Homo sapiens: one gene and its partners. The protein of the gene in region 3 purifies or fractionates together with the protein of the main gene of each other region. This does not show direct contact. Each region holds a gene or a part of one and is shown on either strand. Other genes may lie near its edges. The genes, in order: CAPNS1, FNTB, CAPN1 and CAPNS2.

Evidence for each region.
Region 1: the proteins of CAPN1 (region 3) and CAPNS1 purify together in Homo sapiens (co-immunoprecipitation; 5 studies listed by BioGRID and IntAct, with this or other methods). This does not show direct contact.
Region 2: the proteins of CAPN1 (region 3) and FNTB purify together in Homo sapiens (affinity purification with mass spectrometry; 3 studies listed by BioGRID). This does not show direct contact.
Region 4: the proteins of CAPN1 (region 3) and CAPNS2 purify together in Homo sapiens (affinity purification with mass spectrometry; 4 studies listed by BioGRID and IntAct, with this or other methods). This does not show direct contact.

Annotation. Positions count from the first base shown.
Region 1 is NC_000019.10:36,143,037-36,150,072, reverse strand, and holds part of CAPNS1 (calpain small subunit 1), read right to left. Parts: intron 7,010-7,036; coding exon 6,945-7,009; intron 4,268-6,944; coding exon 4,199-4,267; intron 4,098-4,198; coding exon 4,019-4,097; intron 3,878-4,018; coding exon 3,761-3,877; intron 496-3,760; coding exon 437-495; coding exon of another isoform or gene 261-436; coding exon 234-260; 3' UTR 1-233. UniProt on the Homo sapiens protein: Regulatory subunit of the calcium-regulated non-lysosomal thiol-protease which catalyzes limited proteolysis of substrates involved in cytoskeletal remodeling and signal transduction. Essential for embryonic development.
Region 2 is NC_000014.9:64,981,904-64,989,929, reverse strand, and holds the start of FNTB (protein farnesyltransferase subunit beta), read right to left. Parts: upstream 3,036-8,026; 5' UTR 2,977-3,035; coding exon 2,833-2,976; exon of another isoform or gene 2,817-2,832; intron 1-2,816. UniProt on the Homo sapiens protein: Essential subunit of the farnesyltransferase complex. Catalyzes the transfer of a farnesyl moiety from farnesyl diphosphate to a cysteine at the fourth position from the C-terminus of several proteins having the C-terminal sequence Cys-aliphatic-aliphatic-X.
Region 3 is NC_000011.10:65,205,902-65,212,516, forward strand, and holds the end of CAPN1 (calpain-1 catalytic subunit), read left to right. Parts: intron 1-561; coding exon 562-773; intron 774-878; coding exon 879-918; intron 919-2,153; coding exon 2,154-2,219; intron 2,220-2,303; coding exon 2,304-2,361; intron 2,362-3,421; coding exon 3,422-3,486; intron 3,487-3,947; coding exon 3,948-4,016; intron 4,017-4,116; coding exon 4,117-4,195; intron 4,196-4,434; coding exon 4,435-4,551; intron 4,552-4,912; coding exon 4,913-4,971; intron 4,972-5,358; coding exon 5,359-5,385; 3' UTR 5,386-6,105; downstream 6,106-6,615. UniProt on the Homo sapiens protein: Calcium-regulated non-lysosomal thiol-protease which catalyzes limited proteolysis of substrates involved in cytoskeletal remodeling and signal transduction. Proteolytically cleaves CTBP1 at 'Asn-375', 'Gly-387' and 'His-409'.
Region 4 is NC_000016.10:55,562,481-55,568,187, reverse strand, and holds CAPNS2 (calpain small subunit 2), read right to left. Parts: upstream 1,505-5,707; 5' UTR 1,432-1,504; coding exon 685-1,431; 3' UTR 501-684; downstream 1-500. UniProt on the Homo sapiens protein: Calcium-regulated non-lysosomal thiol-protease which catalyzes limited proteolysis of substrates involved in cytoskeletal remodeling and signal transduction.

The DNA of each region.
Region 1 (7,036 bases), on a different chromosome or scaffold from region 3:
GAGACCCGTGGACAGAGCTTGTTAGAGTGTCCTAGAGCCAGGGGGAACTCCAGGCAGGGCAAATTGGGCCCTGGATGTTGAGAAGCTGGGTAACAAGTACTGAGAGAACAAAAGCTTGTGGGTCAGCAGGCCCCACAAAGATGTGACTGCAGACAGGATCGGCCCTGGGAGAGACCGAGGCTCCAGGTGACTCCTATAGCAAGGCAGTGAGGGGGCGGGTCTGGGGCTCCAGTTCAGGAATACATAGTCAGCTGCAGCCACTGGGGAGAGGAGGGTGGAGAGTGAGGACAGGGAACCCCAAGAGCACCAGCCCCTTTGCCCTCACCCAGGGACGGCTGGCAAAATAGGAGGAAGGGGACTGCAGCTCAGAGCTGGTATGAAGGGCTGAGGGGTGGGGTCCTCCCAGGCACCCATACCCCAATATGGGGGTCCTTACCTCCTGGATGTTCACCTGGATTTGTCCAGTGCCATCTTTGTCAAGAGATTTGAAGGCACCTGGAGGAGGAGATGCAGAGGTTTGGCGGCAGGGAAGGAAGGAGACTGGTTTTTGGCATAATAACATTACACAAATACATGGGATGACAATCATAGCAGCTGGCACTTCACTGAGTATTTACTGTGTGCCAAGCATGGGGTAAAGTGCTTTCCAGGTATTGGCTGATTTAATCCAACTCTGTGAGATAAGTGTCATTTTAAAATGAGGCACAGGCTGGGCGTGGTGGCTCACACCTATAATCCCAACACTTTGGAAGGCCAAGATGGGAGGATCACTTGAGCCGCCCAGGAGTTCGAGACCAACCTGGGCAACAGAGACCTCATCTCTGCTTTTTAAAAAAACTAAAAATTAAAAACAGGAAAAAAAGAAATGAGGCAGGAAGGGAGGGGCCATGCCCCAGGTCACATAGCAAGAAAGTGAAGAAATCAGGATTGGAATCCAATCTGTTACCCTCCTCAATAATGGCCTCTGTGTACTGATATCACCTCTGCCCAGCCCCAGCCTCCTACTGACATCTATGCTCCATCCTCTCCAGTTCTAAGCCTAACAGGCTACTAGAGGGAGGCTCTGCACACTCTACTTCCTGCCCCTAGAGTCTTACAGGTAGGTCCCCACGCCTGCCCTGAAACTTGACTCCATGTTCCCCACCCACAGGGAATCTAGACATGATGACTACACTATCTCCGCTCAGTTACCACCACCCTCAGGTGTCCATACCCACAGCGTCCTGCACACCCTGGCTGCCTTTCTTTCTTTTTTTTTTTGAGACAGAGTCCCACTCTGTTGCCCAGGCTGGAGTGCAGTGGCACGATCTTGGCTCACTGCAACCTTTGCCTCCCAGGTTCAAGTGATTCTCCTGCCTCAGCCTCCTGAGTAGCTGGGACTACAGGCGTGCACCACCACGCCTGGCTAATTTTTTTGTATTTTTAGTAGAGACGGGGTTTCACTATGTTGGCCAGGCTGGTCTCAAACTCCTGACATCAGGTGATCCGCCCACCTCGGCCTCCCAAAGTGCTGGGATTACAGGAGTGAGCCACCATGCCCAGCCCTTTTTTTTTTTTTTTTAGACGGTGTCTCTGTGGCCCAGGCTGGAGTCCAGTGGCAAGATCATAGCTCACTGCAGCCTCACCCTCCCGGGCTCAAGTGATTCTCCTACCTCAGCCTCCCGAGCAACTGAGACCACAGGCATGTGCCACCATGCCCGGCTATGTCTATATACATATATTTTTTTTTTTTTGTAGAGATGGAGTCCTACTACATTGCCCAGGCTGGTCTCAAACTCCTGGACTCAAATGATCCTCCCGACTATCAGCCTTCTTGCTGGTAGATCCAGTGGCTATTTCCTGGCCCCTCTTATGTGACTTGTGGCATCAACCTTGTCTGTCCACTCCCTTCACCTCCCTGCTATCTCACATACCTGCTTCTTTTCCTCTGTTACTTTTCATGCATTGTGGGCTCTCTGGAGGCCAAGGGATCTTTTTTTCTTTTTTTTTTTTTGAGATGGAATCTCGCTCTTGTCACCCAGGTTGGAGGCTGGAGTGCAATGGCATGACCTCTGCTCACTGCAACCTCCGCTTCCTGGGTTCAAGCAATTCTCCCTCCCTAAACCTCCTGAGTAGCTGGGACTACAGACACGCCCCCACGCCTGGCTAACTTTTGTATCGTTAGTAGATGCGGGGTTTCGCCATGTTGGCCAGGCTGGTCTTGAACTCCTGACCTCAGGTTTTACGCCCACCTCAGCCTCCCAGAGTGCTGGGATTACAGGCATAAGCCACTGCACCCGGCCTGGAGGCCAAGGGATTTTTTTTTTTTAAGACGGAGTCTCGATCTGTCACCCAGGCTGGAGTGCAGTGGCAGATCTCAGCTCACTGCAAGCTCCGCCTCCTGGGTTCATGCCATTCTCCCGCCTCAGCCTCCCAAGTAGCTGGGACTACAGGCGCCCGCCACCACACCTGGCTAATTTTTTGTATTTTTAGTAGAGATGGGGTTTCACTGTGTTAGCCAGGATGGTCTCGAACTCCTGACCTCGTGATCCGCCCTCCTCGGCCTCCCAAAGTGCTGGGATTACAGGCGTGAGCCACCGTGCCCAGCCGAGGCCAAGGGATCTTTCTAAAGCCAAACCTGACCCTGTCCTCCCTCTGCCTAGAACCTGCCATGGCTCCCCAATGTCTCTGGTAGAGTTTGAGCACCCCCAAACTTGGCACCCACAATCCTGCATGACCTAATCATGCTCACTGCTCCTACCTTCTCTTACTTAGCTCAGATCTCAGATAGATCCAAGTTCAAATTCTGGCTTTACAACTTCCTAGCTGGGTGACTATGAGCATGAAAATTTGCCTCCTTGAATCCTAAGTTCCTCCTTCACAAAATAAGGACAGTAATCCCCACTTCCCAGCCATGTCTTCAGCATTCAGTACACTAACACTCAGAAGGCCACATGCAATGGCTCATGCCTGTAACACCAAAGCTTTGGGAGGCTGAGGTAGGAGGATTGCTGGAGCCCAGGAGTTCAAGACCAGCCTGGGCAACATAGCAAGACCCTGTCTCTACAAAAAATTTTAAAAATTAGCCAGGCATGGCGGTGTGTGCCTGTACTCCCAGGTATTCGGTAAGCTGAGGCAGGAGGACTGCTGGAGCCTAGGAGTTGAGGCTGCAGTCAGCCATGATCATGCCACTGCACTCCAGCCTGGGCAACAAGAGCAGCAGACTCTGTCTCAAAAAAATAGAAAGAAAGAAATCTAACAAAAAGCATCAGAAGCCCCATCTTCTTTCCCTTCTAGGCCTTTGCACAGGCTGTTCCCTCAGCCTGCAACAGTATTCCCTACCTTCTCACTAAGTTCTCTCCTCATCCCCTCAGGTCTCAATGTTCCCTCTCCAGTGAGCCCTCCCTGACCCCTTGGGCTGCATCAGGTTCCTCCTGGATTGGATTTGCCCTCTAGGCTTCCCCAAGCACAATCTGAGCACGCTCTGCTCACTCTTCCCCTCACCAGAGCCCTAGACCCTCGGCCTGTGCTGCCCCCATCACAACCCATCACTCTGCCCTGAGCTTCCCCTCTCCCAGCCATCACCAGTCTGAACTGTCACTGTCTGGGGACTTGTGTCTCCTCCACCAGACTGTGAGCTCCATGAGGGCAGAAACTGGAACTGATTCAATCACCACTGTGCCCCTAGCATCGCCCACCTCAAAGTCAGGCTTAGAGGAGACCTTGGTCCATAGAGGTCATAGGAATCCCCACCCAGGAAGACAGCTGGGTTGTCACTCACGGAACATGGCGTCCAGCCTGACCAAGCAGCTGATGAAGTTGTCAAAATCCATGTTCCCACTTTCATCTGAGTAGCGTCGGATGATCATGTTATAGAGATGCTCATTCAGGTGGAACCCTAAGATGGATGTAGTCCTTCAGGTGCGGGGGCCACATGGCCCAACCCACTCCCATGCCCAGGAGTCAGGCCCAGACCAGCTGAGTAGAGGTTTTCTCACCCATCCCACTCCCAGCCCCAGCATGTCCCTGCCAGCCATACCTGCTGCCTCAAAGGCACCTGGGAGTTCACTACTGCAAATGGTCCCTGATCGGTCAGTGTCGAACTGTTTGTATATGGCCTGTGAGGACAGAGACATTGGGTCCAAGTGAGCATTGTGGGGCATAGTGTCTCCATGGCTTGGGGGTCTGGGTGCCAGGGATTTCAGAGGTTTCTACACACCTGCCACCTTTTGATGTTGTTCCACAAGTACTTGAATTCCTCAAAGCCCAGCTTGCCTGTGGTGTCGCTCTGGTGGGAGGGTGTTAAGAAGAGTGACAGCTACACCCAGATGCATGCATCACATGCACTGTGGACACGATGGTGATACAGCAAGCAGGGCAGCCAGGGCTGAAACTCCAGCTCCCGCTTGGTCCTAGTCATATCACCTGGTGTGCGGTTTTATTTTTCATTTTATCCATACATATTGTCACTTACATTTCTAAATAGGGATTCTCTTTAAACATAACCATGAGGAATTATATTCAACTACTCTAAAGTACAAATTCCTTGCCTGAAGAGTTGTTAATTGCTCATTCAGAAAATTCTTAATAGGCCACGCACGGTGGCTCCCGCCTGCAATCCAGCACTTTGGGAGGCCGAAGCAGGCGGTTCACTTGAGGTCAGGAGTTCGAGACCAGCCTGGCCAACATGATGAAATCCCGTCTCTACTAAAAATACAAAAATTGGCCAGCTGTAGTAGCGCACACCTGTAATCCCAGCTATTCAGGAGGCTGAGGGAGGAGAACTGCTTGAACCTAGGAGGTGGAGTTAGCAGTGAGCCAAGATGGCACCACCGCACTTCAGCCTGGGAAACAGAGTGAGACTCTGTCTCAAAAAAAAAAAAAAAAAAAGAGAAAGAAAAGAAAATTCTTGACAGTAACTCAATTTCATAAAAATGTTAGGATATGTGAAAAACAAGTGTGTGACCAGGCATGGTGGTTCATGCCTGTAATCCCAGCACTTTGGGAAGCCAAGGCAGGTGGATCGCTTGAACTCAGGATCCACCTGATGTCCACTCAGGAACATCACTTTCTCACTAAATCCTTGGGACACCAGTTCTACCAGGACTATTTCCAGAGAAGAAAACATTCAAAGCTGAAAACTCTACCCAAGATCATAGTTAAGAGCTAATGTGTACAGACCACATACTATGCGCTATACACTGTGCTAAACCTTTTGGATGTAGTTCCGATTCGGTATCACCATTATCACTCACCCATTTTACAGAGAGAGAAACTGAGGCACAGAGCGGTTCAATAACCTGGTTAAGAGGTAGAGTTGGGATTGCTTTGCTCTATGCAATATGTCTGTGATTACATGACATGTATATTATGTATGTGTCTGTTTGCCCTATGTGTTAAATGTGCATGAGGCCAGGCGCAGTGTCTCAAGCTTGTAATCCCAACACTTTGGGAGGCCAAGGCGGAAGGATTGCTTAAGGTCTGGAGTTTGAGACTTGCCAGGTCAATATAGTGAAAGCTTTTCTCTATAAAATATTTTTTAAAACAAAAATAAATAAAAATATGCATGTATCCAAGATCAGCTAATGGCTGGCCCATGTACAGATAACACGTGTGTCCCTGTGCACACTGCCTCATACACCTTCACGTATGTGGGTGTGCTCTTAGGTGTGTGTGTGTGTATATGCGCATGTGGCTGTTATAAACGTGGGTTCTCAAGCCCAAAAGACCTGAGTCCACAGACTGGAGTGCAGTGACGAAACCTCTGCTCACTGCAACCTCCGCCTCCCGGGTTCAAGCAATTCTCCTGCTTGAGTAGCTGGGACTCCCGAGTAGCTGGGACTACAGGCGTGCACCACCACGCCCAGCTAATTTTTGTTATTGTTATTTTTCTTTTTTTTTCTTTTTTTTTTTTTTTGAGACGGAGTCTCTCTCTGTCGCCTAGGCTGGAGTGCAGTGGCGCGATCTCGGCTCACTGCAAAGCTCCGCCTCCCAGGTTCACGCCATTCTCCTGCCTCAGCCTCCCGAGTAGCTGGGACTACAGGCGCTCACCACTGCACCCGGCTAATTTTTTTGTATTTTTAGTAGAGACAGGGTTTCACCGTGTTAGCCAGGATGGTCTCGATCTCCTGACCTCGTGATCCGCCCGCCTCGGCCTCCCAAAGTGCTGGGATTACAGGCGTGAGCCACGGCGCCCGGCCTATTTTTATTTTTATTTTTATTTTATTTTTTGAGACAGAGTCTGGCTCTGTCGCCCAGGCTGGAGTGCAGTGGCGCGATCTCGGCTCACTGCAAGCTCCTCCTCTCGGGTTCACGCCATTCTCCTGCTTCAGCCTCCCGAATAGCTGGGACTACAGGCGCCCGCCACTACGCCCGGCTAATTTTTTTTTTTTTTTTGGTAGAGACAGGGTTTCACTGTGTTAGCCAGGATGGTCTCAATCTCCTGATCTCGTGATCCGCCCGCCTCGGCCTCCCAAAGTGCTGGGATTACAGGTGTGAGCCACCGTGCCTGGCCAATTTTTGTATTTTTAATAGAGATGGGGTTTCACCATGTTGGCCAGGCTGGTCTCAAACTCCTGACCTCAGGTGATCTGCCCACCTTAGCCTCCCAAAGTGTTGGGATTACAGGCATGAGCCACCATGCCTGACCTTTATCTATAACTTGAGACAAATGACTGCTTCTTTCAGGAAACTGAGCCTCAGTTTCCTCTTCTGTAAAATGGAATATAATAATTGTGCCTGTCCAACAGGGTGGTTATGACGGTTCGGTCACTTTATATAATTAAAGTGCCAGCTGTGACAGCTGGCATTGTTATGATTTACCGCCACATGTCTGCAGGTGACTGTGTTCTGATGAATGCATTTCCACATCTGTGGATATGAAAGCTACATGTTGGCTTCCCAAACATACTCTCAAAAAACTCTCTGTCCACCCAGGGCCTCTCCCACACTGCCCCCAAGGATACATCCATCACGGCCACCATGCTGCGACATGTGTCAATGCCAAAACCATCAGTCTTCAGATCAGGGTCTGTGGGTAACAGGTTGAAAGTCAGAG
Region 2 (8,026 bases), on a different chromosome or scaffold from region 3:
CATTCCTGACACACCCTATCCCCTCTATCCCAAGGTGTTACTCTCCACAGCGTTTCTAATTAACATTTTATATTGAGATAGCTATAGATATTAACTCTTTTAATTGACTGCCTCATTGGCCTAGAAACAGTTTCATAAAGGCATCAACTTGGCCTCTTTTGTTTAACAACTTATGCCGAGTGTCTAGAACAGTGCCTGGCACGTAGAAGGCGCTCAAGTATTTGCTGAATGAATGAGAATCAACGAATGGAACAGACGACTCACAGCTAAGGACTCCTTCCACTATTTATAGGTTTAACTCCTATTACCAAATTATTGCTTAACAAATAAACCGAGTCTTCTGATAATCAGATAGGAAGCAGGTAACAAGCATTTATTTTTTGTTTGTTTTTTTTTTTAATTTGAAAAGCTTTCATCTTAAATAGACACAGGGTCTTGCTATGTTGCCCAGGCCAGTACCAAAATCAGTATAGTCGTTTTTTGTTTTAAGAGACAGGGTTTTACTCTGTTGCCCAGGCTAGAGTACCGTGGCTCGATCATGGCTCATCTGTGAACTTCTGAGCTCAAAAACAATTCACCCACCTCAGCTTCCCAAGTAGCTGGGACTACAGGTGCATGCCACCACGCTCAGCTACTTTTTTTTTTTTTTTTTTTTTTGGTAGAGACAGGGTCTTGCTATGTTGCCCAAGTTGGTCTCTTGGGCTCAGGTGATCTTCCCGCCTCGAACTCCCAAAGTGCTGGGATTACAGGTGTCAGCCATCAATTTGTTTTTACTGGCAATGGCACAAAATTGAGCTATCAGTAAATGGAAGCTTTAGTTAAAACTGAAAGAGTACTAGTATATCCTCTGTAAACAACTCCTCCTAACAAGGTTGTTACTTTTGATGAATGTATCATTAACCTACCAATGTGGTAGGTCTCTAAACCTCAGTCTTCTCATCCATAAAAAGTGAAAGGATTGAATGATACCACATATGGAGAGCATTTAGCACTGTGCTGAGACTCAATAAATGGTCACTAACATGATTATTAAAACAGTGAGGAAGGCCACAAAAATGAGATACAACATTATCATCCTACTACCTGAAACTGTTCATCCTAGACTCTAATAATGTGTGCTGGAATAACAACATGAAAAAGAAATATAAGATTCTTTACTGTCTGCCATACCGTTGGGTCTAGATTTGAAAGATACTCGCACCAGGAGCAGTGGCTCACGACTGTAATCCCAGCACTCTAGGAGGCCGAGGAGGGCAGATCACTGGAGGTCAGGAGTTCAAAACCAGCCTGGCCACATGGTGAAACCTGTCTCTACTAAAATACAAAAATTAGCCAGGCGTGGTGGTGGGCGCCTGTAGTCTCAGCTACTCTGGAGGCTGAGGCAGGCGAATGGCGTGAACCCGGGAGGCGGAGGGTGCAGTAAGCCAGTGCATCCCAGCCTGGCAACAGGGCGAGACCCCATCTCAAAAAAAAAAAAAAAAAAAAAGGCAATCCCATAGTCTAAGGTCAGATAATAAGTAAAACACTTGACCTGAATCAACTCAGCAATCCATCATTTAGGAATTCTGCAAAGATCCTGTAGGTTTTTCATCAATGGGAAATTTCTTTACAATCTTTTGCAGTCAGCCTTCCCTGGGACACACTGGTAGGCAAACCAACCTGGAGAATTAGCTAGATTCGAGAGGTGAGGATTTCCTTTGCTACCCTAAATTCCATGAAGTTTAAATCTCCAGTTAAAATATTTTCTCTGCTACTTTGTGAATAACCACGTATCAAGCCCTTGTTTCTGTTATAAATTTATAATTCTATTTAGTCATAACTGTACAATAAAACAATTATTGTTACTAATTTTGCCAAAGTACAGGCTTCCAACTTAAAGTAGGAAATACAAAACAGGTCTCTCCAAGGTAAAGCCTGGAGACTGATCTCACTAAGAGATCTTATTTCAGTAAGCAGCAGAATGTTCATTTATTAGTGTTAAGAATTATCCTAACCACTTCTCCTAGGGACAGATGGATAAACAGTTCCACATAGCAACCTTGGGAACAATTCCAATTAGGGAATAAGAAGAAAAACAAAACTATGGTTTTGGGCATATGAATATATACTCATTCGCCAAACACTTTTCAAAATGATAGGTTCGATCCTACTTCTAGGCCTTAGGGAATGATTAGTAGTCCAAAATCCATTCTTTCTATTAGATCACTTTCCAAACTGTTTTCCTGCCTGTCCCCCAACCAGGCTCCTGGTCAGGAGCTGTTTTATTTCCTTGTACTTCCATCGTTTAATATTGTGTCCGACACGTAGCTGGTGCTCAAATGGCTGAATGACTACCAAAATGCCCACCCACGAGGCGGGCCCCCAAACCTGGCACTGTAGGTCAAAAATTAAACAGATCGTGAAACGGCATGACAGCAGCCTGGCCCTGCTCTCTGCCTCCAGAAGCTGAGGGCAGGTTGGGAAAAGTGCACTATGCACCCCAGAACCTCCCGAAGTACTGGCAGAACAGAGTGGGCTGTCCGACCCGCACGGGCTGCCTCTGTCCTCCAGGCATAGAACACGATTCTTCTCGTTCTTTAGGGCAGAGGGGACTCGGCTACTGCCCTCTCCTCCAAGCCCAACCTTGAAACGACCCTTCCCCAAGCTGGCCGCGCAAACGCTCCACGACGAAGCCCAAGCCTGGGCGCCCGGAGCTTCCCAGAGGAAAGGCACCGCGGTGCGCTGTGGGAGTCGTAGTTCCCCGGTGAGTTCCGCACCCGGGCGGCCCTACGAACGGGACTCGCGCTCCCAGAACACATCGCGCGGGCGCCTCGCCCAGTCCTGCCACCTCACCTGTTCTATGGACGTGACTGTTTCCACCGAGTCGTCCTGCAACCGCTCTCGCGCGTGCTCGGGCCTCAGACTGTACAGCGGCTCTGACCAGACGGGGGAGGAAGATGGAGGGCAATAGTAGGTGAAAGAACTCGGAGAAGCCATGATCAGGAGAGCAGCAGACAGTGTGTAGGACTCTGCTTCGTTAAGCAACAACGCGCATTGAAACTCGAGCGGGCTAAAGCGCTACGGCGAGCGGATAGAGGCAAAAAGATTTTGAACGCGAATGTCTCCTCCCGCCTACCCGTCTTTCGAGTGAGTTACTGAGATGCTGCCGCCCCCCATTGGGCAGAGGAGCTGCTGCAAGAGCGTAGAGTCCTGAAGCGCAAGGGTGTCTACATCCGAATTTCATTTCAGCGAGATGGCGTAGGACGCCTCGGTTTGTTACGCAAATTGTTAAAGAACTGTAACATTCTGCTAATTCTCACTTAATTGTAATGCAATTGTTTGCAATTTCAGGTGCCCAAGAACCCAATGAATGTTAAGTTTGAAAGCATTTCTGACAGCTCTACTGATTTGCCTCAGTCAGGCAATTACTAAAAGAATTATTGTGCACCTTGGGGTACTTGACAGCCTCCCAGGAGAAGGCAGCAGCTGCTCAAACGTGCAAGGACGCCGTCTCAGTATCACTCAGTGATGGAGGGAGGGGGGTATTATGATTTTCTCCTGTCTCTTGGAGGTTACACTGCAGTAGCGAGAACTGAAATGCAGTACAAGGAACAAGGATAAGTGAAATAGACAGTCAGTCCGCAGATATTTATGGAACACCTGCTATGTGTCAGGCATTGTGCTAGGTTCTAGGAATACAAAAGTGAACAAAACGAAGTCCCTTCCCTTGGAAACCTTACATTCTAAGAAAATCGACAGAATTGAATGTATCCAACGCAATAAATATATGAAGACTTGTGATAAATGAGATGAAGGAAAATAACAGGGTCTATGAGAGAGACTAAAGGGGTAAGAAACTAATTGAATTGTATGGTCAGGCCAAGCCTCTCTAAATGACCTTTCATTTGAGATCCGAAGGATGACGAGGAGTCATCCAGAAGAACAGTATGGGAAAGAACTCCTGAAAAAGGAAGAAACAGCAGCTTTTAGAAGACATGTGCTGGGCACGGTGGCTCACGCCTGTAACCCCAGCACTTTGGGAGGCTGAGGCAGGAGGATCACTTGAGGAGTTAGAACATCCTGGGCAACATAGCAAGACCTCATCTCTATTAAATATCAAAAAAATTAGCCGGGCGTGGTGGCGCATGCCTGTAGTCCCAGCTGCTCGACAGGCTAAGGTGGGAGGATCTCTTGAGCCCAAGAAGTCGAGGCTGCAGTGAGCTATGATTGTGCCACTGCACTCCAGCCTGGGTGGCAGAGCGAGACCCTGTTTCAAAAAAAAAAAAAAAGCAAAACAAAAAAACAAACAAAAACCATAGGCTCAAGTGACCCTCCTGCCTCAGCCTCCTGAGTATCTGGAACTACAGATGCTCACCACCACGCCCAGCTAGAATAAAAGAAATTCTTATTGATTCTTATGGAGTGGACTTACTCATCACACTTGCCTCCAGAACAACCAAGTTTAAAGTTGTGATTTTTAGGAAAACGCTGCTACCTTTGGACAAGCAATAGAAGAGAATTTATTTTAGGGCATGCATCAAAAGTACTACACCAAAAATTATAATACCAAGAGATTAAACTGGGGGAGTTGTATGTAGGAGATTATAGAAGGTATGATAACAGACATTCCGGGTACACTTGGAGACAAGCTTTACTTCCTGCTCAGAGCACTTCACTCTGTTCCCACTCCATTCCATGTCACATGTCTAGGATCCAGGGATTATAGACCAGAGTGACATTTGACAACCAGCCATTCCCCTGTTCTCAGTCTCTGGTAGTAAATAGAAGCACTCACAAAAATTTCAAAGATGAGGCTGGGCTGGCCTAAAGACCTCAGGTGGATAAATACTACCACCATGTCCATTTTAGTGGTACTGTTGCTGAACTAAGACCTAGAGGCACCAGAATATTACCAAATCTGGAAATAAGGGGACAGTATGGGTTAGGACCCATGGATAAGGCTGCACAATGTGAAATGGTCTCATTATACTGCCCCCTGTATTGGCATCTTACTGTCTTTCCCTTAGTTATATTTTGGGAAATAAATGGTCTGATAAGGTCAGGGTTATATCTAAGGATTCAGCCTTTGTCACAAAGAGTTTCTTTGCAGGAGAGCTGGAAACTTAACGCTTCAATCCTGAAGACTGTGCTATTGAAAGAATAGCTGGGACAGTTTTGTGACAAATTGTTGCATCTGTCACAGATGCACCTAAAGCAATTGCAAACTGTATTTTAGAAATAAAAATTCATCTCTGAAATTCAGTCTCCTCTGCAGTGGGATCCAAAAGATGTGAATAGGAACATGGGCAAGAGTCTCCGGCAGGATAGTGTGTTCTCATTCAATTAATGTTTATTGAGTACAGGGTAAGTGCTGGGCACTGAGCTAAGTGCTAAGGAGACAGCAGTGAACAAGCCAGACACAGTCTCTGCCATTATGGGTCTCATGACTTACCAGAAAAAACATTAAACAGTAATGACAGAATTGACTCTTTCATGACAGTTGGGAGAAATGGGATGAGGCAGAAAGAAGCATGGAGTGTGTGAGCTTGCATGATGGGGGGACCCTAAGGTAGCCTGGAAGGTCTGGAAAGACTCCCATGAGGAAGTGAGTTAATTAATCCAGGGGATGAGAACATCCCAGGCAGAGGAAACCCAGTGACAACACCAAATCAAGTGAAACCAGCAATGAAAAATATGTGGGGTTTGTACTCCATGTAAGCATCAAGAAGACCTGGATCAAATAGCCCACTAGTTGTCCCTCCTCTTGGTTTAATAAAACCACTCATTCAAGAAGCAGAATGAACATAAATATTAATGGTGCTATAGAGAATGATATATTTAGAGAGAAAACTCTTAGTCATGATAATAGCAACTCCAGCTTGGACTGCAGATGGTTTATGTTTATTTTACTCACATGCCTGATACTCTTTTCTAAATTAAACTGATCGTGTTTCTTTAAAAATAATATTAAATGTGGACCGTGCTGTTTTATACTTTTAAGAGCAAGAAAAAGAAAAAAGTAATGGTCTAAATGAACCCCTAGAGGTCGCTTCCGACCCTGGAGTGCGTTTAGGGAGTAAGTTTTAAAACTGCTCTCACCGTTCTCCCTGTTTTCACTCATACAAGCCGTATGTCGGAATGAATTGTTTCCTTTAATATCTTGTGAAACTGTGTAGTAATACATATTGGAACATTTGGAAAATGGAAAGAACTCATCTATTATCCCGCTAGGTAATTAACTTCCTCCCCAAGTTTACTGCCCACCATCATCTGTGCCCTCCTACTCGGCGGTCCTGTCCCTCCTATTCCCCTAGATGGAATGACTGCCCCATCTCCTACCTAGGACCAGGTCATCTCCCTCCCCTCACGCGCCACCCCCCAAAGACTGTCGCAATTCTCCCTTTCCTTTCCTAAAACACCAAATTTTTCCTCTACTTGATCATCCAGATCTCCCTCAAGCATGCCATTTTCTCATTCTTGGCAGCGTGGAGGGTGAGGGGCTTTTTTTTTTTTTTTTTTTTTGAGACAGAGTCTCGCTCTGTCGCCCAGGCTGGAGTGCAGTGGCGCGATCTCGGCTCACTGCAACCTCCACCTCCCGGTTTCACGCCATTCTCCTGCCTCAGCCTCCCAAGTAGCTGGGACTACAGGCGCCCGCCACCACGCCCGGCTAATTTTTTTTTTTTTTTTTTTTTTTTTAGTAGAGACGGTGTTTCACCGTGTTAGCCAGGATGGTCTCGATCTCCTGACCTCGTGATCCGCCCGCCTCGGCCTCCCAAAGTCCTGGGATTACAGGCATGAGCCACCGCGCCTGGCTATGAGGGGGTGGGGGGGGGTGCATCTCTAACCCTCTTGATTCCACTCCTTCTCCAGCTACCTCCCGATGACTCATTGGCGGAGACCCTTGAAAGATTTGCTACTACTAACGTCTCCAGGTCCTCTCTTCCAACTCTCTCAAGCCCATTCTAATCAGGTTTTCCAATCGTTTCTTATCAACTCTCCATTAAATTCCATATCGCCAAATCCAAGGGCCAGGTCTCAGTCCTGATCTCAAGTCTTCCTTCTTGACTTCCCAGCAATATTTGCACAGTTGATCATTTCCCTTCTTGAAACACATTGTCCTTGTGGTGCCTCACACTGGTTTTCCTCCTTCCTTGCCTTTCTAATATCTTGGATACCTTAGCTTGGGGTACCCCAGGATTCAGTCCTCAGACTTCTTATCTGTCTGCACTAACTTCCCTGTCAGCTCAGGCAGTCTCAATGTTTTAAATAACACTTATAGGTTGAAAACTCCCTAATTTGTATCTCCAACCTGGATCTCTCCTGAACTCCAGAGTTCATGTCTAATGTCTATTTGCATTTCCACTTAGATCTCCAATAGGCATCTCAAACTTAACATATCCACAACAGAGCTGCTGGTCTTCCCTTCCAAACTTGTGCACTCAGTCTCCCCGATCTCTATTATGATAACTCCATCCTTCCAGTTACTCCAAATACCTTGGAATCATTCTTGCTGCCTCTCTTTTTCTCACTCCTTGTAAGTTCTGTTCTAAATATATCTAGCATCTGATCACTGCTTACCAATCCCACTGCCAGTGTCCTGGTCCAAGCCACCATCATCTGTTACTTGGATTCTTACACTAATCTCTTAACTGTTCTCCCTCTTTTCACTCTTGTCCCCCTGTACCCTAATACAAACTTGCTATAGACTGAATGTTTAGGTGCCCCCAGTAGTCATATGTTGAAACCTAATCCCCAATATGAAGGTGTTTGAAGGTGGAGCCTTTGGTAGGTGTTTGGGTCATGAGGGCCGAGCTGCCATAAATGGGATTCATGTCCTTATAAAAGAGACCCCACAGAGCTCCCTCACTCCTTCTGCCATATAAGGACACATAGAGAAGGCATCACCTATGAGCCAGGAAGCAGGCCCTCACCAGACACCGAATCTGCAGGTGCCTTGATGTTGGACTTTATTTCTGTTGTTGACAAGGTACCCAGTGTATGGGATTCTGTTCTAGCAGCCTCAAAGATCCAAGACAAAATGAAAAAG
Region 3 (6,615 bases):
GCACAGGTAGTCAGTGAGGGAGCTGGATTTGAGCCCTGGTCCTCAGAGCCCCTGTCTGACATGTACACATGAGGCTTTTCCTGCCTTGCCATCTACACCAAGTAAGTGCCAACTAGGGCGGTCCAGCAATGTCAGGAGCAGGGCATTAGACAGGCTGAGAGTTCTGTACCCTTGAGCAGTTGCTTAAGCTCCGAGCCTGTGTTTGTGTCTGTAAAATGGGTGTAACAGCAGAACAGCAAATGAGGTGCCGAGTACCCTGCAGTACCTGACCTGGGGAAAGCTCCCAGTGATAATAATGACAGTGTTATTGAAACACATGCCTAATCTGCAATCCGGTGCTCCTCTCCTCTACCCTCTGCAGTGAGTAGGGTTGTTACATTTTACAGATGAGGAAACTGAGGCAAAATGTCTTGTTAGGGTCACACAGGCTGTGAGTGAGCCATGCCCCAGCTCTCCAGCCCCTTGGCCAGGACAAGGAGCCTGGAGTCTGGGTCTGGGGGTGGCCCCTGAGGGTGGGCTGAGTGGGCAGCTGCAGCCCTGCTCCCTCCTCCCTCCCACCAGCTGGTGGGCCAGCCGGCCGTACACTTGAAGCGTGACTTCTTCCTGGCCAATGCGTCTCGGGCGCGCTCAGAGCAGTTCATCAACCTGCGAGAGGTCAGCACCCGCTTCCGCCTGCCACCCGGGGAGTATGTGGTGGTGCCCTCCACCTTCGAGCCCAACAAGGAGGGCGACTTCGTGCTGCGCTTCTTCTCAGAGAAGAGTGCTGGGACTGTGTGAGTCATGGACTGGCCCCTGCCACTCTCCCCTCTCCCAGCCTCCCCTCTCAGGCCCTCTGCTGTCCCCCTCTGACTGGCTCCTTTCCTCCCCACTCTCTGCAGGGAGCTGGATGACCAGATCCAGGCCAATCTCCCCGATGAGGTGCGTGGTCCCACCCCACCAGGCCCCGTCCTCCTCTCTTCCTCACCCCTGGGTGTGTGATGGGGACCCAGGTGTCCTGTCCCCTGAGTTCCTGCTAACAGGGAAGATCCCCTCCTGGTGGAAGCCATAGGAGTAGTGCTAATCCCTCATCCGCCCAGCACTTTACAGTTTGCAGAGGACCTGTGATACTAATGGCACAGGCCCTGAGCTCTCACCCGGTGGCGGGTTTGTGCTGAGCACTTCACCTGTGTTACCTCATTTCCTCCCCACATCAACCCTGTCCGGGTCTTGTTACCATACCTCCTCTGAATGGGAAATTCAGGTTCACAGAGGTTAGGGAACTTGCCTGAGGCCATACAGTAGGGATCCAAACTCTTGCCTTTTTTTTTTTTTTTTTTTTGAGAGAGTCTCACTCTGTCACCCAGGCTGGAGTGCAATGGCGTGATCTCGGCTCACTGCAACCTCCGTCTCCTGGGTTCAGGTGATTCTCCTGCCTCAGCCTCCTGAGTAGCTGGGATTACAGGCGCACGTTACCACACCTGGCTAATTTTTGTATTTTTAGTAGAGACGGGGTTTTGCCATTTTGGTCAGGCTGGTTTCAAACTCCTGACTTCAAGTGATCCACCCACCTCGGCCTCACAAAGTGCTAGGATTACAGGTGTGAGCCACCGCACCTGGCCCAAACTCTTGCCTTTTACTCACTGAGCTGAACAGCATCCCCTTCATTTAGGTCACATGAGTGCTGGATATGGGGCGGGGCAGGGCAGGGCAGGAACGAGATTCCCTTTTCAGATTAGAAAAGTGAGACTCAAGCCGGGCTCAGTGGCTCACGCCTGTAATCCTAGCACTTTGGGAGGTTGAGGCGGGCGGATAACCTGAGGTCGGGAGTTTGAGACCAGCCTGGCCAACATGGCAAAACCCCGTCTCTACTAAAAATACAAAAATTAGCCGGGCATGGTGGTGGGCACCTTTAATCCCAGCTACTCAGGAGGCTGAGGCAGGGAGAATGGCTTGAGCCCGGGAGGCGGAGGTTGCAGTGAGCTGAGATCACGCCACTGTACTCCAGCCTGGGTGACAGAGTGAAACTCCATCTCAAAAAGAAAAGAAAAGAAAAGTGAGGCTCAGAGAAGCGAAGTGACTTGTAGCAGATATGTGACCTCAGCCCTCCCTCCAGCTGCCTCCACACGGGCAGGGCCGGGGCCTCTCTTACCTGCTTTCTCCCCTTCTCGGTCCAGCAAGTGCTCTCAGAAGAGGAGATTGACGAGAACTTCAAGGCCCTCTTCAGGCAGCTGGCAGGGGAGGTAGGTTGGGGCATGGCAGGTTGGGAGGGGCCTGTGAGGGGCAGCCCTCTCCTGGGGCAGGTGCCACCTCCTCTCTCTCCCCAGGACATGGAGATCAGCGTGAAGGAGTTGCGGACAATCCTCAATAGGATCATCAGCAAACGTGAGTCCCCGCGGGGCTGTCCCACCACCCCACCATTTCTTCCACATCAGAATCCAGGCTCCTGCTCACACATTGAGCTGAACCTCATCCCTTGGTCTGCATGAGTCGGGGAATCCTCCAGTTTTTCTGAGCCCAGTTCCCTGCCATTTCCATCCCATACTCCTCCTCCTGACCTGCCATCCTGATAATCCCTGTGCTCGGGTGCTGTGCCTTTGTGGGATTAGCAGCGCAGCCTGGCCAGGCACAGTGGCTCACACCTGTAGTCCCAACACTCTGGGAGGCCGAGGCAGGAGTCGCTTCAGCCCAGGAGTTCAACACCAGCCTGGACAATATGGAGAGACCCTGTCTCTGCAAAAAAGTACAAAAATTAGCTGGGCGTGGTGGCATGCACCTATAGTCCCAGCTACTCAGGAGGCTGAGTTGGGAGGATGGCTTGAGACCAGGGAGGTTAAGGCTGCAGTGAGCTGTGATCACATCAGTGCACTCCAGCCTGGGCAACAGAGCAAGACCCTGTCTCAAAAAAAAAAGCAGGAGCAGCACCTTAGTGCCAAAGAAAAGTCTACCTTTCCTCCCAGAGCCTCCTGGGCCAGGCTGAGTGGCTTGGGGAACACCACGTGACTGGCTTCACTCCCCAGGGCAGACAACTGCTGGCCTCTCATCCCCTCCCCTCCCCTTTGCTGCCACTGACCTCCATCCACACGGTTTCCTTAAGCAGAGCTTTTCTCCTCCTCTTCTCTGCTAGTGAAGCACTGCTTACCCTCCTAGCCTACAGCAAGCCCTGCCCTGCCCCATCTTTCTACCCAATTTCTCGCTCTTCTGTTTCACACTCATTTCTTTTTACTTTGGACTAATTGTGGCTGTTGGGACTTTGGCTTGATTGCTAAAATACTTTACTTGTACTTCCTGATGATACAAACAATCCTGCCCACTTCCTCTGCCAGATATTGCACCCACTCGTCAGGATTTGTGCGTCCTTGACTCTGCCCCACCCAGTGCTCCCAGCAGGGGCAGGTGCAGGAAGCTCACTAGGTGGAGATGTTGGAATTGGTTTTTCTTGCAGACAAAGACCTGCGGACCAAGGGCTTCAGCCTAGAGTCGTGCCGCAGCATGGTGAACCTCATGGATGTATCCTTCCGTTTGCTTTTGTCTCCTGAGTGGGGTTTTGGGTGGAGGTATCGGTGCTGGGAGAACTGTCCCAGGACAGCACAGAGAACAGGACAGAGCCATGCGGAGTGTGGACACACAGTGCCCCATGCTCAGATGTCTCCCTGGACGTCTTCCTGTTGGTTGGGAGGGAGAAACTGAGGCACAGACCTGTGTCAAGTGAAAGGTGGAGCAAGACCTGGGTCCCCATTGACCCTGAGGCTGGTGCTATTTCTGACCCCTCCCCAGCCCACTCCACTGCAGCCCAGCTCAGAGAATAAGGCAAGCCCGGCTGTGGGCTGACTGTACATGGCTTTTGCTGCTTCTCCTCACCCAGCCCCAAGTCGACTTGCCGGCTCGGCGGCCATCTCCCCTTCTGCACAGTTGCCCACTCTCCCATGACTGGTCTAAGTGATGGAATTTCCTTCTTAACGGCCACCCAGCGTGATGGCAATGGGAAGCTGGGCCTGGTGGAGTTCAACATCCTGTGGAACCGCATCCGGAATTACCTGGTAGGTTGTCCCCACTCACCTCAGTCATGCAGGTGCGGGCCGGGCAGGTGGGAAGGGCCGGGTGACTCAGCCTGGCCCTCACCCTCTGCCGCCACCTCAGTCCATCTTCCGGAAGTTTGACCTGGACAAGTCGGGCAGCATGAGTGCCTACGAGATGCGGATGGCCATTGAGTCGGCAGGTGAGACTCCAAGGCTGACGGCACCTGTGGGGCCCAGGACAGGTAGCCCCACTGCTCCTATGCCCCAGGCCCTTGTCCCTGGGGTGCTAGTGGTGACATGGTAACAGCCATCTTGTCCTTTTCCCCACGGTTACTAGCACCCTGCCTAGCCCCAGCCCCCTCCTGGGGACCCAACCCCTCCCCCATCCTGTTGGGCAGGGGCTGCGCCTCACTGACCTTCACTCACTCTCCTGGACCAGGCTTCAAGCTCAACAAGAAGCTGTACGAGCTCATCATCACCCGCTACTCGGAGCCCGACCTGGCGGTCGACTTTGACAATTTCGTTTGCTGCCTGGTGCGGCTAGAGACCATGTTCCGTGAGTGTCCCCAACTGCCTCCCACCCTCCAGCTCCGTCCCAAACGCGTCCCCCAGGAGCTGGGGGGAATGACAGATGGGTGAATTAGCAGATACAGGCCAGTGCTGTGGGTGTGTGCCAGAGAGGCCTGGGTCTGGGTTTGGGGGGCCCTGGCTGAGTGCCAGGAGAGTCGGGGAGGGAGGGAGTTGACAGTGGCTTCTCAGGCAGCAGGAAGGGGTGAAGCTTCCCAGCTTCAAGGGGTGTCAGCTTGCGGTACTGTGGGGAGGTAGAGAGGGACCAGGCAGGAAGGGGGCCAGGCCTGGCCCTGCGTGAATATCCCACTGAGTTTTCAGCCCTGTATCACCTTTTCTTGAACACACAGGATTTTTCAAAACTCTGGACACAGATCTGGATGGAGTTGTGACCTTTGACTTGTTTAAGGTGGGAACCTCCCTGGGCCCATGGTTGGGGAAGAGTTCCAGGCGATCGAATTTTCTTATCTGGCCAGTGTTCCCTGTCCTTTCCTGGAAATGAGCCTGGGCCTCAGAGCCAACCCTGAAGCCCGGGCCACCTGAATCCTGAAAGGCTGGGGTGGGGGTGTCTGGATTCTGGGAAAGGAGCAGGAGGGGAGGTCCAGGCCCTTGGAGGCCCCTATGGGAGCAGCACTCTGGTTTCCCAGGGGTGGAGGAGGTAAGAAAGTAACCCCTCCATGAGGTTCCTGAGGTGGCTCCTGAGACGTGGAGTTGGGGGCTGGACCTGGGGTTTGGGTGGGGAAGAAGCCAGGGAGCCATTTCTGCGGCCCCAGCTGACCTGCCTGTTCTCCCGCAGTGGTTGCAGCTGACCATGTTTGCATGAGGCAGGGACTCGGTCCCCCTTGCCGTGCTCCCCTCCCTCCTCGTCTGCCAAGCCTCGCCTCCTACCACACCACACCAGGCCACCCCAGCTGCAAGTGCCTTCCTTGGAGCAGAGAGGCAGCCTCGTCCTCCTGTCCCCTCTCCTCCCAGCCACCATCGTTCATCTGCTCCGGGCAGAACTGTGTGGCCCCTGCCTGTGCCAGCCATGGGCTCGGGATGGACTCCCTGGGCCCCACCCATTGCCAAGCCAGGAAGGCAGCTTTCGCTTGTTCCTGCCTCGGGACAGCCCCGGGTTTCCCCAGCATCCTGATGTGTCCCCTCTCCCCACTTCAGAGGCCACCCACTCAGCACCACCGGCCTGGCCTTGCCTGCAGACTATAAACTATAACCACTAGCTCGACACAGTCTGCAGTCCAGGCGTGTGGAGCCGCCTCCCGGCTCGGGGAGGCCCCGGGGCTGGGAACGCCTGTGCCTTCCTGCGCCGAAGCCAACGCCCCCTCTGTCCTTCCCTGGCCCTGCTGCCGACCAGGAGCTGCCCAGCCTGTGGGCGGTCGGCCTTCCCTCCTTCGCTCCTTTTTTATATTAGTGATTTTAAAGGGGACTCTTCAGGGACTTGTGTACTGGTTATGGGGGTGCCAGAGGCACTAGGCTTGGGGTGGGGAGGTCCCGTGTTCCATATAGAGGAACCCCAAATAATAAAAGGCCCCACATCTGTCTGTGATGTGTTTCTCCCCAGCCTACTGCCTGGAGGGCACCTGCAGGCCCCGGCCCATGGGGGCAGCTCGTGGCCTCAGCTCACCCCTCCCCTCCAACCCCTCCATCTCCTTCCCCTTGACCTTGAAGCTTGAACCCCTACTGGAGTACTGGGTATCTGGGCAAGACCACCCCTGGCCCTGGGAGGTTGGGAAGGAGGGGCCCTAGCTGCAGGGACAGGGCCACACAGCTGAGGTCCCACATGGCTCTGCTGATCCTACATGCCCTCCCCGCCGCCCAGGAGGCCTGACCCCTACCTTTCTTGCACACTTCGGCCCGTTGAGGTGAGGCTCTGGCTGAAATTCAAACCTCTACTTAGCACACACCCGGCCCCCCAGAGAGCTCCCCCGAGCACAGAGCCGCCTTCAGGTCCCTCTGTGGGGAGCCCCTGTGACCCAGACACCTGCACTTACATAAGCCGCTCCAGGGCCTGCTGGGATCTGGGATTTTCTTACCAGAGATAAGAGTGGTTTGGGGG
Region 4 (5,707 bases), on a different chromosome or scaffold from region 3:
TACAAATGTATCAAAACAAAATTGCTAGTGCTTTTTTTTACTAAAGAAACAGAATTAAAGAACTTTAGAATTTTAGATAGTAGCTCCATCATTTAAAAAAATGCTACCCTTATATAAAACTGCTTAATTTCATTGTCTGAACCTGTTTCTTTATGGTTAAATAAGTTTCCTAAAAAGCACTTTTCATTTTTTTACATAATGGGAAAACCAGGTATAAAATTACAAGAAAAACAGATTTTGAACCTCTCTCCTCAACTTTTTAAAATGGAAAATGTATCTCCTGAGGGCTTTCTTGATTTATTCTAGGATTAAAAAAATTCATTCTTAACAACAATAACAACAATAATAAAGTTCCTACTCCTTGGAATTTATTCACTAAATAAGCAACACCTTTTAAAATCTACTCCATTAGAACTCTACCCCACAACCTCCCCACCATATATATGCAAGTCCATATAAATCCAAATCTCAAAAAGCTGATATACAAACCACTCAGAACATTTTTCGTGAAATATCTGTTTTAATTCAGCAGTAAAAGGCAGCACATGATCAGAAATATGTAGGGTTGTGAAAGAGCTTGCCAGGAAATGAGAGCTGTTGCACAGGGTATCAGCAACTGTGTACAGCTTGGCAAGGTTTTCAGTCCTGTCCTCCAGGGAGGATCTTGACTTCTCAGTTCCCACTTCAGGAATACATGGTCAACTGCAGCCATTCTTTGATAGACACTTGAATCAGGCCATCTCTATCTCTATCCAGAGACTTGAAGGCACGAAACATGGCATCCAGGCGGACCAAGCAGCTGATGAAATTGTTAAAATCCATATCTCCATCTTCATTAGCATACCGGCGGACAATCATTTGGTAAAGTTGTTCATTTAGCTGGAAGCCTGCGGCCTGCAGAGCTCCCCGCAGCTGAGAACTTCCCAGAGACCCAGAATGGTCCCTGTCATACTGCTTATAAACACACTGCCATTTCTTGATGTTGTTCCACAGATACTTAAATTCTTCAAAGCCCAGCTTACCAGTCGTGTCACTGTCCATGACAGACACAATGCTCCGGCAGGTGTCAAGACTAAAACCGTCAGTCTTAAGATCTTTGTGCTTAGAAAGGACTTTGTTGAGAATATTCATCAGATCAGTGGCACCCACCTCCATGTCTGGTCCAGCCAGCTGTGTAAATTGTTGCCGAAATCGCCTAACTTCCTCACTTTCTGAGGCCTCCACACTGGTGAAATGCTGCTGAGTGGGAGGCGGTTCTGGAGTATACTGAGCTGCTGCAGCCTCACTGATAAAATTCACAATTCCTCCAACTATCCCTCCAATATTTCTTCCTCCTCCTTCTCTTCTCTGACCACCTCCTCCAAAGAGGCCTCCAAGAGCTTCTCCAAGACCTCGATCTGCTCCTTCCAATAGAGCCTTTGCAAGAAACATGCTTTCAGTTTAACAAGCAAATGCGGCAGCAATCTTAGAGATGGTATGAAAAAAGATGAAATGGAGTTCAAGTAGTTTACATGTGGAAGAACTGGCTTTTCTTTACCTGCTTACACTGCACCACGCCCCATGATGTGATGTTTCACATCCTACTGAAGATACCTGAGTTCCATGAGGTCCTAGCACCTGCCATATTTTACAAGGCCTCAATAAAATTGTTTTCACTCTTCCAGATACTTATAAATTATAGTATGTAGGACACCTTAGGATAATAGTTTTAAAGAAAAAATATTAAAGTATGCATTTTTATGTCATTGATTTCTTAGTCCTCTGTCTCAGCACCTAAAAAATGATGTGCATTTTCCTAACAGGAAAAAGGTAAATGATGCAAGGAAATCAAAAATTTATTCTCTAAGAAATATTTATTGTTAGAATAGAATTGAAGAAATCTTGGGCATTGGAAGAATATTTAATCCTCTTCCTTTAGCAAAGATTCTCAAAATCCAGTAGTCTTAAGAAAAATTTAGAAGGGAGATTTTTAAAATGCAAGGTCCTGAATTTCCACTCCCAGAGATTCTGATTCCATAGGGCTGCTGTGGTGTCTGTGATCGACATTGCTAAAATCTTTTTTGAAATGTAACATTCATGTAAAAAATGTATCATATAAATCACAAATGGATAGCTCAAAGAATTTCACAGACTGCACACATCTCAGAGGCCTCTTCATACTTCTTTCTAGTTACTTCCGTCTTCCAAGGATAACCACTGTCCTGACATCTAACACCATAGATTTATTTTTGCACCTTAAATAAATTAAATCAGACAGTACAGACTCTTTCATTTATTCCTTTTTCATTATAAAAATGTTAAATGTTTTAAAATTGTGATAAAATACACATGCCATAAAATATACTATTTTAACCATTTTTAAGTATAGAGTTCAGTGGCATTAAGTATATTTGCATTGTGAAACCATCACCACCAGCTATCTTCAGAACTTTTTTCATCTGGCAAAACTGAAACTGTACCCATTAAAGAATAACTCCCATTCTCCCCTTCCCCCACCCCTGGTAACCATCTCTCTATTTTCTAGCTCTATGATTTGACTACTCTGCATGCCTTATATAAGTGGAATCATACAGTATTTGTTCTTTTGTGACTTGCTTATTTCAATGAGCATAATTTCTTCAAGATTCATCCATGTTGTATCATGTGTCAGAATTCCCTTCCTTTCTAATGATGAATAATATTGTATTGCATTAATATACTCATTTTGTTTTTCCATTATCCCATTGGTGAATACTTGGGTTGCCCTTTTGGCTATTGGGAATAATGCTGCTATGAACATGGGTATACAAATATTTGTTTGAGTCTTTGCTTTCAATTCTTTTGGGTATATACCAAGAAGTGGAATTGCTGAATCATATGATAATTCTATTTTTATCTTTTTAAGGAACTACCATACGCTTTTCCTTATTGACTGTACCACTTACATCCCCACCAGCAATACACAAGAGTTCCAATTACTCCATATGCTTGCAAACACTTGTTATTTTCTCTTTTGTTTTGTTTTCTAATAATAGCCATCCTAATGGCTGTAAAGTGGTATAACATTGTAGTTTTGATTTGCATTACCCTAATGATTAATGATGTTGAGCATCTTTTAATGTATTAATACTTACTGACCAAAGAAGATCTTTGGAAAAATGTCTATTTAAATCTTTTGGCCATTTTAAAATCTGGTTATTTGTTGGGTTTCTTGTTGTTGAGTTGCAGGAGTTCTTTAAATATTCTAGATATTAATCCCTTATCAGATATATAATTTGTAAATATTTTCTTTCATTCTGTAGGTTACCTTTCCACTCTGTTGTTAGTGTCCTTTGATGCACAAAAGTTTAAAATTTGTATGTGGTCATATTTATCTATTTTTCTTTGGCTGCCTGTGCTTTTGGCGTAATATTCAAGAAATCATTGAGAAATCCAGTGTCATGAAGCTTTTCCTCTGTTTTCACTGAAGAGTTTTATAGTTTCAGCTCTTATGTTTAGATCTTTGATCCATTTTGAGTTAACTTTTGTATATGTGTAAGTTAAGGGTCCAACTTCATTCTTTTGCATGTGGATATATAATTTTCCCAGCACTATTTGTTGAAAAGACCGTCCTTTCCCCATTGAATGGTTTTGGCATTCTTGCTGAAAATCATATGACCATATACACAAGGGTTTCTTCTGGGATCTCTATTCTATTCCATTGGCTTATATGTCTTTCTTGAAACCAGTGCTGCACTGTTTTGATTACTGTAGGTTTGAAGTAAGGTTTGAAATGAGGAAATGTCAGGCTTTCAACTTTGCTATTCTTTTTCAAGATTGTTTTGGCTATTCAGTGTCCCTTGAAATTCCCTATGAATTTTAGGATTGATTGTTCTATTTTTGTAAAGAAACATTGGGACTTTGAAAAGGATTGCTTTAAATCTGTAGATCACTGTGGGAAGTACTGACTCTTAATATTGTCTTCTAATCCATAAACATGGAATATCTTTCCATTTATTTGTCTCTTCTTCAATTTCTTTCAGCAGTGCTTTGTAGTTTTCAGTGTACAAGTCTTTAGCTTCCTTCTTGAAGTCTATTCCTAAGTATTTTAATTTTTTCTATGCCATTGTAATGGAATTGTTTTCTTAGTTTCCTTTTCAGAATTGTTCATTGTTGGTGTATAAAATGCAACTGATTTTTGTGTGTTGATTCATATCCTGTAACATTGCTAAGTCCCTTAATTAGTTCTGTGTTTTGTATGTGTGAGGGGTAATCTTTAGGGTTTTCTACAAATAAGATCATATCATTTGTTAACAGAGATAATTTTACTTCTTCCTTTCTATTTCATATGCCTCTTATTTCTTTTTCTTGCCTAACTGTTCTCGCGATGATTTCCAATACCATGTTAGTAGAAGCATGAGAGTGGGCATCCTAGTCTTATTCCTGATCTTAGAGGAAAAGCTTTCAGTCTTTTCATCACTGAACACAATGTTAGCTATCAACTTTTCATATATGGTGTTTATTATGTTGGGGCACTTTCCTTCTAGTTTGTTGTGTGATTTTATCAGGGAAGAGTACTGAATTTTGTCAAATGCATTTTCTGCATCTGTTAAGATGATCATGTGATTTTTCCCCTTCATTCTGAGAATATGCTGTGTTACATTAATTGATTTTCATATATTGAACCATCTTGCATTCCAGGAATAAATCCCACTTGATCATGGTGTATAATACTTTTAGTGTGCTGTTGAATTGTGTTTGCTAGTATTTTGTTGATTTTTGCATCCATGTTCATATGGCATATTGGTCTGTAGTTTTCTTCTCTCCAAGTGTTTTTATCTGACTTTGGCCTCATGGAATGAATCAGAAAGTATTCCCTCTTCTTTAATTATTTGGAAGAGTTTGAAAAGAACTGGTGTTAGTACTTCTTTCAATGTTTGGTGGAATTTTCCAGTGAAGCCAACTGGTCCTGGGCTTTTCTTTGTTGGGAGGTTTTTGGTTACTGATTCAATATCTTTGCTAGTTATAGGTCTATTCATATGTTTTACTTCTTCATGATTCAGTCTTGGTAGGTTGTGTAGGAATTTGACAATTTCATCTAGCTTATGCAATCTGTTGGCATACAGTTGTTCGTAGTACTCACTCATCATCCTTTTTATTTCTGTAAAATTGGTAGCAATGTCTTCTCTTTCATTTCTGGTTTTATGTGTCTAGCTTTTTCCCCCCTCAACAGTATATTTTTGAGATTTGATTTTATATTTTTAATAAGCATCTTCAGAAGTCAGTCTGTAACAGGTAGCCTGGATAATACTTTGAGAAATCCTACCTTTAATACTAGTTATAGTCAGAGTACAGGTCCTCCAGAGGTTATTGGAAGTTCTACTGGGGAACTTGGGGAAAAGTAGCTAGGACTTAATGATTAAGTCATTATATTACTTAGCATTTGGGGGTCTCAATTTCGAATCTACAAAATGATAATAATAATATCGCCCTTGCTTACTTCAAATGATTCAATCTGATTTATTATGTATCAGGACTTGGGCTCAGTACTTAGGTTACAAAGGTGAATAAAGCAGGATGGCTGTGCTCAAAAATCAAGTAGAACTACAGGAAACTGGTATAATTATAATATGAAGTCTGTGTTCACATTTCTACTATCAATACTAATCTATTATATTTGTATATATATGTTTTAGTATTTAGGTTTCATTGAATTCCTCTGAAAGATACAAATGTATTTTAGATAAGG